Regions from separate parts of the Homo sapiens genome. Here regions 2, 3 and 4 are each reported to be linked to region 1. Evidence: microRNA targets listed by miRTarBase, many of them from high-throughput screens and not tested one by one. Region 1 holds a microRNA gene; each other region holds the end of a gene's coding sequence.

The links. The annotated mature microRNA hsa-miR-6832-5p reads AGUAGAGAGGAAAAGUUAGGGUC and lies in region 1 at 1,153-1,175, shown strand. An mRNA with a match to its seed (bases 2 to 7 or 8) in the 3' UTR can be bound and repressed. Matches are read on the target gene's strand: a 7mer-m8 pairs with bases 2 to 8, a 7mer-A1 pairs with bases 2 to 7 and ends in A, and an 8mer does both.
Region 2: miRTarBase lists RSL1D1 as a target of hsa-miR-6832-5p. Seed matches in the 3' UTR shown: 8mer at 795-802 and 7mer-m8 at 2,589-2,595.
Region 3: the mRNA of IL36B is a reported target of hsa-miR-6832-5p. The part of its 3' UTR that is shown has no 7-base or 8-base seed match.
Region 4: miRTarBase lists MLXIP as a target of hsa-miR-6832-5p. Seed matches in the 3' UTR shown: 7mer-m8 at 1,149-1,155 and 8mer at 398-405.

What each region holds. Positions count from the first base shown.
Region 1 is chr6:31,632,640-31,636,335 of GRCh38, forward strand. MIR6832 (microRNA 6832) reads left to right here and starts at 1,148; the gene lies at 1,148-1,219. It overlaps PRRC2A (proline rich coiled-coil 2A), which reads left to right. Exons shown (of 31, transcript NM_004638.4): 16 at 1-353; 17 at 740-1,008; 18 at 1,220-1,350; 19 at 1,597-1,726; 20 at 1,833-1,918; 21 at 2,114-2,338; 22 at 2,493-2,633; 23 at 2,755-2,826; 24 at 2,943-3,110; 25 at 3,328-3,410; 26 at 3,570-3,696. RefSeq lists a silencer at 2,040-2,203.
Region 2 is chr16:11,834,958-11,837,957 of GRCh38, reverse strand. It overlaps RSL1D1 (ribosomal L1 domain containing 1), which reads left to right. Exons shown (of 9, transcript NM_015659.3): 9 at 1-3,000. The coding sequence ends at 171. Among named protein-coding and RNA genes, the nearest start is that of BCAR4, 7.6 kb to the right of the region's middle.
Region 3 is chr2:113,024,851-113,028,546 of GRCh38, reverse strand. IL36B (interleukin 36 beta) reads left to right here. Exons shown (of 5, transcript NM_173178.3): 5 at 432-1,114. The coding sequence ends at 644. Among named protein-coding and RNA genes, the nearest start is that of IL36A, 21 kb to the right of the region's middle.
Region 4 is chr12:122,141,121-122,144,816 of GRCh38, reverse strand. MLXIP (MLX interacting protein) reads right to left here. Exons shown (of 17, transcript NM_014938.6): 17 at 1-3,126. The coding sequence ends at 3,005. Among named protein-coding and RNA genes, the nearest start is that of IL31, 31 kb to the left of the region's middle. RefSeq lists a silencer at 2,128-2,328.

The DNA of each region.
Region 1 (3,696 bases):
ACTGCATCAGAGAGCAGTGACTTCACCAGTGAGCGCCGAGGGGACAAAGAGGCACCCCCACCAGTACTGCTGACACCCAAGGCTGTGGGAACTCCTGGGGGAGGTGGAGGTGGAGCCGTACCAGGTATTTCAGCCATGTCCCGCGGAGATCTGAGCCAGAGAGCCAAGGATTTGAGTAAACGGAGCTTCTCAAGTCAGCGGCCAGGCATGGAACGGCAGAATCGGCGCCCTGGCCCAGGGGGCAAGGCTGGCAGCAGTGGCAGCAGCAGTGGAGGAGGCGGTGGGGGTCCTGGAGGAAGGACCGGGCCAGGACGAGGCGACAAGAGGAGCTGGCCCTCTCCCAAGAACCGAAGGTGGGTAGGAACAAACAAATTTATTGTGGTTTAAAAATTGGAGGAGGGGGAAAAAGCCTGAGGGAAAGATAAGTTTGGGTGGAGTGGAGATTGTGGCCTGAGGGGCCATGGGCTCTAGAATGTCAGTAGGATTTCCATGTCTGGCTAAGGCAACTGGAAAGCGGTTGGTAGGGTGTTAGAGTCAAGAACACCCACCTATGTATTCATTGCTGGTTCTTTGCTTTCCAGTCTGTGCATCTGTATGCATAGGAATCCTTAGAAGGACTCAAAAACACCTGGACTTTAATAGGGAAGAGAATAGGTTGTAAGCAGAAGTTGGGAAACATAACTTGTGGGAAAAAGTAACGATTTAGTGGATACTGGAGCTAATGCTCTGTTTTCTCCAGTCGTCCTCCAGAGGAGCGTCCCCCGGGGCTTCCCCTGCCTCCCCCACCTCCCAGCAGTTCTGCTGTCTTCCGCCTGGACCAAGTTATCCACAGCAACCCTGCTGGCATCCAACAGGCTCTGGCCCAGCTTAGTAGCCGTCAAGGGAGTGTAACTGCACCAGGGGGTCATCCAAGGCACAAGCCTGGGCTTCCCCAAGCCCCTCAGGGCCCCTCTCCTAGGCCCCCAACCCGATACGAGCCCCAGAGGGTCAACAGCGGCCTCAGTTCTGGTAAGCTGGAGGGGTTATGGGTGGGAATATCTCCATCCCCAGAGAAGGTCAAGTGCTGGAGGGAGCGGGTGGAGAACCTGGCCTAGGGACCCTGCTGCTGGGTGCGTTTCTGCAGGGAGCAAGGGTAGAAGAATTGGGAGGTGGAGTAGAGAGGAAAAGTTAGGGTCAGTGGCAGAGCCAGGCAGATGCTGACCCTTTTTCTCTTTCCCAGACCCCCACTTTGAGGAGCCGGGGCCAATGGTGAGAGGGGTGGGTGGGACTCCTCGGGACTCTGCCGGGGTTAGTCCCTTTCCCCCTAAACGTCGGGAGCGGCCTCCCAGAAAACCAGAGCTGCTACAGGAGGTAAGGGATGGGTTTGAGATTGTGCTTCACTGCACTCTTACTCGTGAAAATTCTTCTGGGTTATGTTTTCTCTGTTTTCTTTCCTGTTTCTTTCACTGTGTTTTTACTCCAGAATTCTCAGTATTAGTCTCCCATGTGTCTCCCTTGTTGTCCCCACACCCTGTGTCACCCCACTCTGTCCTGGCTTCCTATAATTCCCAATTCCCACCCAATTCATGTTTTGCTTCTGGCCCTTCTCATCTGTAGGAATCTTTGCCACCTCCTCATAGCTCTGGATTCTTGGGCTCTAAGCCTGAGGGCCCAGGCCCTCAGGCAGAGTCCAGAGATACAGGCACAGAGGCCCTGACCCCTCACATCTGGAACCGTTTACATACTGGTGAGTAAAGCTGAGTGAAAGGACTATGGTAGAAGGGTTAAGAATGAGAGGGGCTTCTGAACTGTCATCTCCTCACTTCTCTTCTGGTTGGTGCTCCCTTCTCCAGCCACTAGCCGAAAGAGTTACCGGCCCAGCTCCATGGAGCCTTGGATGGAGCCCCTGAGTCCTTTTGAGGATGTGGCTGGCACAGAAGTGAGTGAGGGTGGGAGGGTGTGTCTGAGCTGGGACTTTTTTGAGCACTGGTCATACCCCCCACCTGCTCTGGGTTGAGTCTGGAGCTGTTCTCTCACTTGGCTGTCCCCTTTCTGCAGTTTGTATGTGTGCATCAGTCAGGTATTGGGGTGCTTTCTACCCTGACTTAACTAGCTCCTTCTCCACTCCTCTCAGATGAGTCAGTCTGACAGTGGGGTGGACCTGAGTGGGGATTCTCAGGTGTCATCAGGTCCCTGCAGCCAGCGAAGTTCCCCTGATGGAGGACTCAAGGGGGCAGCAGAGGGACCCCCCAAGAGGCCTGGAGGCTCCTCACCCCTGAATGCTGTTCCTTGTGAGGGTCCACCTGGCTCTGAACCTCCTAGGAGACCACCACCTGCCCCCCACGATGGGGACAGAAAGGTAAAAGACCAAAAAAGGATAAGGGGAATGTTTCCAGGAATCTGACTTTGGCCCTACCTTTTTCTGCTTTTTCTCTCTGCGTGTGTGTTCTGGGCATTCCAATTTGGATTTCCCTTTCCCTCCCCCAATGCACTTTACTGTGTGCCCAATCCAGGAGCTGCCCCGGGAGCAGCCTCTGCCCCCTGGCCCCATTGGCACAGAACGATCACAGCGTACAGACCGAGGCACAGAGCCTGGCCCCATTCGGCCATCCCATCGACCTGGTCCCCCAGTCCAGTTTGGCACTAGTGACAAGGTCTGTGTGGGCTGGATCTGGGTATCCTGAGTTGGGTGGAGAGAAGGGAAGGACTAAAGGTGGGACATAGAGGACACATGTCTGTCACGGGACAATGTCTCCTGCCTTCTTGTGATCACAGGACTCAGACTTACGCCTAGTGGTAGGAGACAGCTTGAAAGCAGAGAAGGAGCTAACAGCATCAGTCACTGAGGTAAGTGGGAGTAAGAGTTTGGTGGAAAGGCCCAAGATTTCTGGGGAAGATTGCTGGGAGTGACCAGGGCGTCCAGGATGCCAGACATCCCTCTCCACGAGGCCTCTCCTTCCCAGGCCATTCCTGTATCACGAGACTGGGAGCTGCTTCCCAGTGCTGCTGCCTCTGCTGAGCCACAATCCAAGAACCTGGATTCTGGGCACTGTGTCCCGGAGCCCAGCTCCTCAGGCCAGCGCCTGTATCCTGAGGTTTTCTATGGCAGTGCTGGGCCTTCCAGTTCTCAGGTAGGCCCCGCTTCCCATTGCATGACCCCTTCAGTGAATAATAATTTTTTTCTGCCTGGTATGTATTTATAATCAAGCCTTTCTACGTTGCAGAGTTGTGAGATACCACTTTGTCACATCATTTTTCTCCCTACTTTTTGCTTCTATGGGTGGGATGGTGATCTTTTTTCTTGACCACAGATACTAAAGCTGTTTCAACCGTGCTCCTCTCCTGCAGATCTCTGGGGGAGCCATGGACTCTCAATTACATCCAAACAGTGGAGGCTTCCGCCCTGGGACACCCTCACTGCACCCTTACAGGTAAGACTCGATGCCTGTGGATCACAGAAGTACTTGGAGATGTGTTTCGGGGAGAGGGAAGGGGAAGACACAGTTCTAGGGTACTAGAAGCTAGTGGACTTAAGGCATTGCTAGGACTCTGGCTTCCTAACAGCTTTTCTCCCCACAATTTATTTTCAGATCACAGCCCCTATACCTACCCCCCGGCCCAGCCCCTCCCTCAGCACTGCTCTCTGGGTTAGCTCTCAAGGGCCAGTTTCTGGATTTCTCCACAATGCAAGCTACAGAGCTGGGGAAGTTGCCGGCT
Region 2 (3,000 bases), not on the chromosome of region 1:
AAAGAAGAGGCAGTGAAGGAAAAAAGTCCTTCGCTGGGGAAAAAAGATGCGAGACAGACTCCAAAAAAGCCAGAGGCCAAGTTTTTCACCACTCCTAGTAAATCTGTGAGAAAAGCTTCCCACACCCCCAAAAAATGGCCCAAAAAACCCAAAGTACCCCAGTCGACCTAAAGTCAGTGATTCAACTGGAAGGAAACCTCAATGCTGCCTCCAGAGCTTTTTGGAAATACTCAGATCCTGGCCGCCTTTGTAACCTTCTCTAAACGTCAGGCCTGGACTTAAAAGATTTTTTAAAACCTCCATAAGTAGTCCAGGGGCGGTGGCTCACGCCTGTAATCCCAGCACTTTGGGAGGCCGAGGCAGGCGGATCACAAGGTCAACGAGATCGAGACCATCCTGGCCAACATGGTGAAACCCTGTCTGTACCAAAAATACAAAAATTAATTGGGCATGGTGGTGGACACCTGTAATCCCAGCTACTAGGGAGGCTGAGGCAGGAGAATTGCTTGAACCTGGGAGGCGGAGGTTGCAGTGAGCCACTGCACTCCAGCCTGATGACAGAGCAAGACTCAGTCTCAAAAATAAATAAAAATAATAAAACCTCCATAAGTAATCCTGACATATGTTCCTGGGTATAATCTGTTTCTAAATTGTCCTTCTGTGTATTTGCTAATGTAATAGAGGGAAAAATAGAGTGCTTCTCTGTGGTTGTTCAGCACTTTAGGTAGCCAAGGTGAGAGGATTGCTTGAGGCCAGGAGTTTGAGACTAGCCTGGGCAACTTGGTAAAACCCCATCTCTACAAAAGAAAAAAAAAAATTAGTGTGGCATGGTGGCATGCATCTGTGCTCCCAGCTCCTCACGAGGCTGAGGTGGAAGGATCAAGTGAGCGCAAGAGGTTGAGGCTCCAGTGAGCCACGATCACCCCACTGTGCTGTAGCCTGGGTGACAGTGTGAGATTCTGTCTCAGAAAAAACAAAGTATAACATTGCTTTGCTTCTGAGTATACTGTTGGCTTTCCAAATCAGTGGGTCTGACTTGAGGTCTGTGATGTGACCCTTTTCCTCACCTGCTCAACCATTATTCACATGGACTCCATCATATTCATTTGTAGTCATTCCCAGAGTGGCCCAGTGAGGGTCTCGCTGTATGAGAGTCGGCTACGGAATTTAGGAGAAACAGAAGTTTCTTGGCTTTCATGCTGAGCTTGTTGGTCTAAGCTTATGAGTCACTGGATTAGCATCCATATGGGAAGGGAAATTAACATGGAGTCATTTATACAGGGACTAAATTGAATCCTACCTACCGGAGGCAAGAACATGATTTATCTTCCATAAGCCTTATCCTCTTCCTCCTTATTCCTCAGTCCATATGGATTTGCTTATGTATGACAACTCCAAGGAATCTTGGAAGAGTAGATTGCTAACGTTTCCACAATTGTCAAGTATATTCTGAGGCAGTAAACACCTTTTTAGGTACGTGGCCTTTCACTGGTTGTGAATTGGTATGCATCCGTAGTAGTAAGTTCACAGATTCACTGCAGTGCAGGAATGTTCTTGCATGCCAAAGACTCAACTGCTTTCAAAGATAATGTGGGTGCTAGATGCAGTGGCTTACATCTGTAACCCTGTTAGGGTGACCAGACCCAACACCAGGTCGTGGGGGTGACAAAGTCCAGTGGAGTCAAAGGATTGAGAAAAAGACAGTTTGAGAGAGAAGTAGGACCAGCAGACCATCGGGATGGTGGAGGCTGTGAAGGCCGTGAGCTCTGGGAGCCCACACTATTTATTGGTAATCCAACAAAGAAACAGATGGTGAGAATGTGAAGGTCAGAAGGGCACCTTGCATTAAGCACATGATTTACAGCTGTGATGGTTTAGCATTTGCTCTGCTACTTGAGATGATGGAGAGCAGGTTCTTTTAACTCAAGTTACAGTCGATCCTGGGAGAGCAAGGAGCCAGCAAGTCTAGACATTCCAGAGCCACAGGCCCTGGATTTTATCCAAGCCACGAGGGATTTTATGCCCTGGGCTTAGATTATGGTGCGTCAGGGCAGCCTTCCACCCTTTAGCACAGAGCTTGGTGTTCCAAAGACCACAAGGGGTTTTAGACCCTTGACCCTGGACATATTCCAAGACTCTTTTACATTATGTCAGAATGCAAGCCCTGCCTCAGCTTCTCCCAACACTCAGCTTTTCGCAACATAATCCCAGCACTTTGGAACGCTGGGTGGATTGCTTGAACCCAGGAGTTCGAGACCATCCTGGGCAATATGGCAAAACCCCATCTTTACCAAAAATAAGCTGGGTGTGGTGGAACATGCCTGTGGTCCCAGCTTCTTGGGAGGCTGAGGTGGGAGGATTGCTTGAACCCGGGAGGTAGAGGCTGCAATGGGCCATGATCACGATCCTGCACTCCAGCCTGGGCAACAGAGAGAGACAGTCCCTGGCCCACTGCCCCCTTCCCTGGCCCAGTCTCAAAAAAAATGAGGCTGGGCGTGGTGGCTCACATCTGTAATCCCAGCCAAGGCTGGCAGATCACTTGAGGCCAGGAGTTCTGAGACCAGCCTGGCTTACATGGTGAAACCCCATCTCTACTAAAAATACAAAAACTAGCCAGGCATGGTGGGAGGCACCTGTAATCCCAGCTACTTGGGAGGCTGAAGCAGGAGAATCACTTTAACCCGGGAGGTGGAGGTTGCAGTGAGCTGAGATCACACCACTGCACTCCAGCCTGGGCGGCAGAGCAAAACTGAAAAAAAGAGAAAAAAAAAAACATCTAGCTCTCCCTGAAATTAGAGGAGTCTAGCCTGCTTTTGCTGTTTTTTTGGTAGCGAGAGTAGCGGGCAGTGGGGGAGATGGTCTTACTCTGTTCCCCAGGCTGGAGTGCACTAGTGTCATCACAGCTCCAGCCTCAATTTCCTGGGCTCAAGGCGATCTTCCCACCTCAGCCTCCCAAGTAGCTCAGACTACAGGGGCATGCCATCACAGCTGGCCAGTTTT
Region 3 (3,696 bases), not on the chromosome of region 1:
CATAAACACATAACTCTTACCAAGGCAACATTGTAGTTATGAAGCTAATTCTTCTGCTATTGTTGGAAATTGTAATGCATAAGCCCACTTGGAGGTTGAGAATGCAGCAAGACTGGCCTGAACCTGCAGACAAATGCATATCAAAAGCACCAAGAAAGAGATTTCAACCTCCCTCTGTTCCAGGGAAGACAGTGATGCTTCAAAGAGTCAGAGCACCTTGTGTCAGAGGATCCTGGGGTGGAGCCAGGCTATGGGAACCCAGTGAGTTCCCGTTTTTAACACTCTAATGCCCTGCTTCATCTGCCTTTGTCCCTAGCCTCTGTCCCTTCCTTTGGGGGCAGCAGTCCCTCTCCTGTTACACACTCAGAGCTGAGTTACTTTAGCTTCCTCCTCCTATCCTCCTCTCTAACAAGCCTCTTTTCCACCCCCAGGAAAAAAATATCATGGACCTGTATGTGGAGAAGAAAGCACAGAAGCCCTTTCTCTTTTTCCACAATAAAGAAGGCTCCACTTCTGTCTTTCAGTCAGTCTCTTACCCTGGCTGGTTCATAGCCACCTCCACCACATCAGGACAGCCCATCTTTCTCACCAAGGAGAGAGGCATAACTAATAACACTAACTTCTACTTAGATTCTGTGGAATAAATCCAGCCTAGGCTGTGGGTGGCTGGTTCCAGGATAGAGAATCAAGCTGTCAGAGTCATCTTAACAGATCATTATGCGACTGAGTTCACTAGCAGTTCAGCCCATCCATAGCTTACCTCATTCTTACTATCCAAAAGCCACCTCCTCCTCCAAACATCCATTTCTGTACCAAGACCCTCACTCGAATGTCACTATCCCAAGATGAAACCTAAAAATCACTTTCCATTCTTTCTTGATCTTACCCCACCATCCACTCAGCTGCCATGCCCAGTTTAGTCAACCCCCCAAATGCTGCTTCATGCAACCTTCCATTCCTATTCCTTTTGCCAACCCATGATGTAGAGATGTGGATTCATGACATTTTGTTCATACAACTTCTTCAATAAAACATTATAATATGTGCCCCAAAGATAAAGCTGAAGAATGAGATGAATGTGAAATTAAAGGTTTGCATGTCTTTCTAATCCTAATGAATTCTTAATGTCATTCGTTAATAATTTGACACACAGTGTATACACTTAACCCTTGAACAACACGATTTTGAACTGCACAGGTCCACTTAAACACTGATTTTTTTCAATAAAAGTTACACCAAATGTCCCTGCTTCTCCTGCCTCCCCCTCTAACTCCTCCACCTCTTCTGCCTCTCCACCCCTGAGACAGCAAAAACAATCCCTCCTCTTTCTTCTCCTCAGTCAATGTGAAGATAATGAGGATAGATTGTTATGATGATCCACTCCCACTTAATGAATAATAAATATGTTTTCTCTTCCTTACGAGTTTCTTAATAGTATTTTCTTTCCTCTAGCCTACTTCATTGTAAGAATACATTATATAATACATATAACATACAAAATGTGTTAAATGACTGTTTATGTTATTGGCAAGGCTTCTGGTCAACAGCAGGTTATTAGTTAAGTTTTTCTGAAGTCAACAGTTATACATGAATTTTTGACTGTACTGCTACCCCCATGCTGTTCAAGGGTCAACTGTACTTTGGTTAAGATCAATTGCTAACCATGGTGAATGTAAACCAATCCATATTTTAAAAAATCATTTATATTGGCTTTAATTTCTTTCAGACAACTTCTAGAACTGAATGTTTTTTTGTTTTTACTTTATAAAGTTGCTGGAAGAAGAAGCATCAGCTATGATACTTCCTTGTTATTATTCATATTTTCTGGAATTTTGTTAGTGTACATTCAATCTACCACTCCTCTATAGGGATACTTTTAAGCCAGTTGTCCATTTTGTGAGAGTTATTTTAATTAAAGTTTGTAATATAATCTGCAAATCCACTAACCAAGTACATGTATACTGCAATAAATATACCATAATATCCTGAGCATGAACATGAGCATAACAGGCTGTCTTCTCTCAAGAGAACTTGTCCTTCTTTGCACATGACAAGCAGGCATATTGGGTCTTGCAATGGGTACCCACTGCTAAGTTCCAATTTCTCAGCCAGGCATAATTTGTCCCCAAAACTATGCTTCTGGCATTATCTCTTATTGCTTCAGTGCCCCGCATTCTCTTTGGGATACTCCTGAACCCCACCTTACATGCTGTATGCAGGCCTTTTACTCCAGTCATTGCCGTGCAACCAACTTTGAGACAGTGTAACCTGGCAGTGTATTATCTCAGCAACATTGAACATTTCTCTCTTCCAGCTTCAGGGCTCCCAAGATAACATAGGGAAGGACACTTGCTGGAAACTAGTTGGAATTCACACATGCATAAACCTGGATGTGAGAGAGAGCTGCTTCATGGGAACCCTTGACCAATGGGGAATAGGAGTGGGTGAGGAGCAAATTCTCTTATCCATCCCACAGGTGGACAATTCTGAGATGCGTTCATTCTTCATGGTTCCTCAGAGGATCCCAGCAGTATTGAGACATAATCACCCATGGCAGGTCTAAGTTCAAGAATACATCCTGAATTGACTTCTCTCACTTCCCTGTTTCAATTTCCCCAGTCCCTTCTCATGTTCCCTAGGGTCACTTGTCATCATCTTGCATGCAAACCCTTGTCTCAGTCTCTGCTTTCTGGTATAAACCTAGCTAAGACAGATTCTATCAAAACCAACTTCTTTTCTCAACTAGCCACCTCCAACACGTTGGATTTCTTCCCTCTATGTTCCTGCTCATGCCTTTGCACACATCTCAAACACTTCCATTGCTGCCTATGTCTTACTAACATCCTAAATCCCTTCCAGCTGTTTTACGGGACTCTCCTCATCTTCCCAACCGAAGGCAACATCTTATCTTCTGCGAGGTCCATAGCATTTTTGCCTTCTCATGGAACATTTATTTTCTTAGGCTTTGTGCTATAGCTTCTTCTCCTTGTCTTGGCCCATTTGCTCTCTTCTCGTCAACCAAATTCTAGGTACATAGAGGCAGAAATTTGTCTCTTTCATTTATGCACTCCCTTTAGATACCAAATCTTCCCTCCCTCTTAGCAGTTTCTCAGAATGCACTGTTGAAGCAAATTAATTTTCATTTCATGTATTAGCATCTTCCCATTAATACCAAAGTGTGTCAGGGAGAATCTTGCATTATATCAGGGCAGTCCTCAACTTCAAGAAGGGTCCAAGGAACTGGAAAGCTTCTCACAGAATATGGAGAGGAAAAACATAGAAAGGCTGCTCAGAAATTTCCCTGTCTCAATTCTTCCTCCTCTTCCCCTTATGCCAATATGGCTCCAGGGGAATGTGATGATACAAGGGCATCCACTCGGGAGGAGATGGCTGCAGAAATGAAACATAACCAAGGGTATCCCCAGGAGCTTTTAGCCAGTATCCTCTGCCTCCCTCTTGGAGGGCTCGGTGCACAGTCTGAGGGTTTGCATTTTGTCCAAGCCTTTCCCCACATGTATTTATGCATATGCACAACAGCATAGGGGCACAAGAGAAGGAGCCCAGGGAAATTCACCATTGCAAATATTTTCTCTGACAAGGTCATGACTAAGCACAAATGGCCTCAAGGATGGCCATGAGAGACTTGCAACAATGTACTTGGATACGTAGTACATAGGTTTTCTGAGAAGGGCTGCA
Region 4 (3,696 bases), not on the chromosome of region 1:
CTCCCAGGTTCAAGTGATTCTCCTGACTCAGCCTCCCGAGTAGCTGGGATTACAGGCGTGTACCACCACACGTGGCTAATGTTTTGTATTTTTAGTATAGACAGGGTTTCACCATGTTGGTCAGGCTGGTTGTGAACTCCTGACTGCAGGTGATCCACCCGCCTTGGCCTACCAAAGTGCTGGGATTACAGGCGTGAGCCACCACAGTCTGCCTCTATTTTCTTTTATTTAGAGGCAGGGTTTCACTCTGTCATCCAGGCTGGAGTACAGTGTGGCATGATCATAGCTCACTGCAACTTCTAGGCTCAAGCAATCCTCCAGCCTCAGGCCCAAGTAGCTGGGACCACAGGCACTCACTGCTACACACGGCTAAATTTTTTTTTTTTTTTTTTTTTTTTGTAGAGACAGGGTCTTGTTATGTTGCCAGGGTTGGTCTCCAACTCCTGAGCTCAAGTGATCCTTCAGCTTCAGCCTCCCAAAGTGCTAGGATCACAGGCAGGAGCCACCGTGCCCAGCCAAGATTGATTTTCTTACTCTCCAAAGCGTCAGCATTTTGAAGTTTCTTTTATGAAAGTGGGGGCAAGAATCAGGGTGAAAATGAGTGTAAACAAAGCCCATCCTGTGGTCAGCACCCACTGGAGGTGGCCAGCAGAGTGGCCTCAGATGTTCCTGCACCTGGCCCAGGAGCCCAGGACAGAGGTCAAATCTAGGCCCCTTGGTCTGGCTGGATTCATCAGGCAAGATTCGAAAACAAGAAAACCTCTAGAACAAGAAACAATCATGTCTGCAGCAGATACGGCACTGTGGCCCTATGGCCATGGCAATCGTGAGCACCAAGAGAATGAGTTACAGAAATATCTCCAATACAAAGACATGCATCTCCTGGACAGTGGACAGTCGCTGGGACACACACACACACTTCAAGGCTCACACAACCTAACAGCCTTAAATATCTGAAGAAACAGAATCACGACATTAAGTCAGCAGAGGGAGAGGTAGGCTGAAGCAGCAGGAGGCCAATTTTATATCCCACAGATTTTTTTAAAAATGACTCCCCAGCAAGGGGTGGGGAGAAAGCCACTGATTTAGGAGAGTTCTTGGCTCAGCCAACCACTGCGGTTATCTACACGTTTTACAAAGGCACAGAAGTAGAGAGGGGCTGCACTCACGACCCTCCCCAGGGCCCGCACAGCCAGACACGGTGGGTTCTTCCTTTTTCCCTTCTGGCCTTGGTGGAATTCCTACCACGGTGGCCTCTGCCTTTGGGACAATGCCTTCATGCTCATCCCCGGGTCAAGGATGGAGTCTGTTACCATTTTCCAGGGGAAATTCCAAGGACCAGCCCCGCCTCATTACGTTCACCCCACAGGAAGGTGATCTGGAAAGCCTGTAAACACGTACTCTGGGTGGCTGAGTGGTGTCACCAAGCTGCTTTTGTGCAGGGCTGAAGCACAGACAAGAGGGCAGGCAGCTGGCCGGAGGCCTGAAGTGGGGAGAGATCCCCGCAGGCCTGCAGGAGCCAGGGAGAACCTCCAACTGGATCTAAACTGTGGGACAGCCCAGGCGTGCCCCTCTTCACATGGCTCCCAGGCTCCCTCAAAGCCCTTCCCAGGCCCTGCAGGAAGAGAGGGAGGGTGAGGAGAGGCAGGGAGGGCAGAGGTCGCCTGAAAGCCTGGGCTCCGAACTCCTCAGCAGAGCTTTAAAGTGCATTCTTTCCACGAGGAGGTACCCTCGGCCGGGCTTCCTGAGTGCTGGAGAGAGTGCTTGCCCCTGCAGCTCCCTGCAGAGGTAGCCAGAGAAGAGCAAGGACTGAGGCTGGGCCAAACTCTCACTGCAGGCTCAGAATGGCCCCCAGCCCAGCCACACCTCCACCCAGCCCAGATCTGGGTAGATTCTTTGCTGTCTGATCTGAGAGATGCCTAGAAACAGCTCTGAGGGCTGACCACCACAGAGTGCTGCCTGCCAACATTGTTTCCTTCTCCAAACACAAGACGGGACAGACTTTTGAGTGTGGGGGCATCTTTGGTCCGAGAACTGTCCTGGTTTGGGGCTCCCAGCTGAAAGACATCAGACAAGATGACAAGGCTGACAGCAGGACGTGGAGTCTGATCTTTCAGACACTAGAACTTCAGGGTTCTAAGCTCCCACAGGACATGCTTGATCTGTCAACAGCTGCAGCTGGAGCCAAGTGGAGAAGAACGGCAGAAGGGCCACAGCGGTGAGGTGACATCCGAGAAGGCCCTGGGCTGAGTCCCCATGGATCCTGCAATGTCAGGTGGAGCTAAAAGGGGACAGATGAAACATGCCCAGCAGGGCCTCTCAGCCAGAGCAGCCACCGTGCATCACACGCTTCCATTCTGGTCCTGTGTGTTCCACATCCACCGTTTCTGCACACATGTGTCCTGGAGGACCTCTGAAGAAGGCACTTCCCCCTGGCAGCCTGCCATGCATAAGCCTGAATAGAAGCCCAAGTCCATCCACAAGGGCTGGGTGCTGTCAGAGTTGAGGGGAGAAAGAAAGACGCCTTCCAACTGCCCCACGGGCAGACCAGAGAGTGGAGCAGGGCATCAGGCAGAGGCATGCATGTGGACAGGACGTGGCAGGAGGGACAAGGCTGGGCCTCAGGACAGGAGCAGGCCCTGTCACCCTCATCCCATCGATTCCGCTCACCGGCGCCAGGCCCGGCAGGCCACCAGCAGGGCAGGACCAGCACGGCCAGCACTTCCCTTTTGTGTGGGCTGCCCCGAGGGCAGAGGAGGTTGGTGACTGAGGTCACTGAGTGAGAGAGTTCACAGCAAGGGGTTCCCAAAGGCGGGCTATTGCTGTCAGCAGGCCCCAAACCTGCTTCAGACCTGAGCATGGCCTCCCGATGCCACGGTGGGCCGGCAGAGTTGGAGAGAGGCCCCGAGGCTGAGCGTCAGGAAGGGCTGGGGGGCGCAGCCTACTCTCCATGGGCAGGGAAGGGTCTCCTGGCATCTCATGCGGCCACATGCCAGCTAAGCAGCTAGGACTCTCCCAATCTCTTGCCAATCCTGGTGACAGCCTTGGACGCCTGCTCTGGCAGCTGTGCCGGGTCTGTGAGGATGGAGGTGGAGGTGCTCAGCTGCCGCAGCGTGCTCAATACCACTGCAAGACAGAAAGGGTCAGACACAGGCAGTGACACAGACCCACCACACACCGCACACTCGGCTTTGTACCTACAACCCATGTGGGAATGCTCAGGCACGGGGCGAGCAGCAGCCATGCTGGACTGCAGGGAGGAGTGCCAGGGGCCGACACCGAGACCTGGGCACTCACCCCTCTGCCTCCAGAAGCCTCCCCAAATCCAGGAGCTGCCGTAGGTGGAGCATCCTATGCTGTTCCTGGTGCCATGGGGCTGCCAGCTGTTCTGATATTAAGCTTCTATAACCTTAACATATGGGATAATCTTTGCTTGTTGTTATAAGAATTAAACAAGAAAACACACCTGAAGGCACCTGATACAGGGCCTGGCAAATAGTTGGCACTAGATCCATGCAAGCTGGGTCTGAACAAGCTGGGAGACACAAAAGGGCAGGAGCCTCCTGCCCCCACTGGGCGCTCCTGACTGAGGACCTCCTGGACAGCACTGTGCCCCTGCCCCGGCCCCACCTGGCTGCCTGCAGTGGAGTCTGGCTAATACTGTCCTCAGCCTGGGGCTGTCCTCCCTCCAGGACT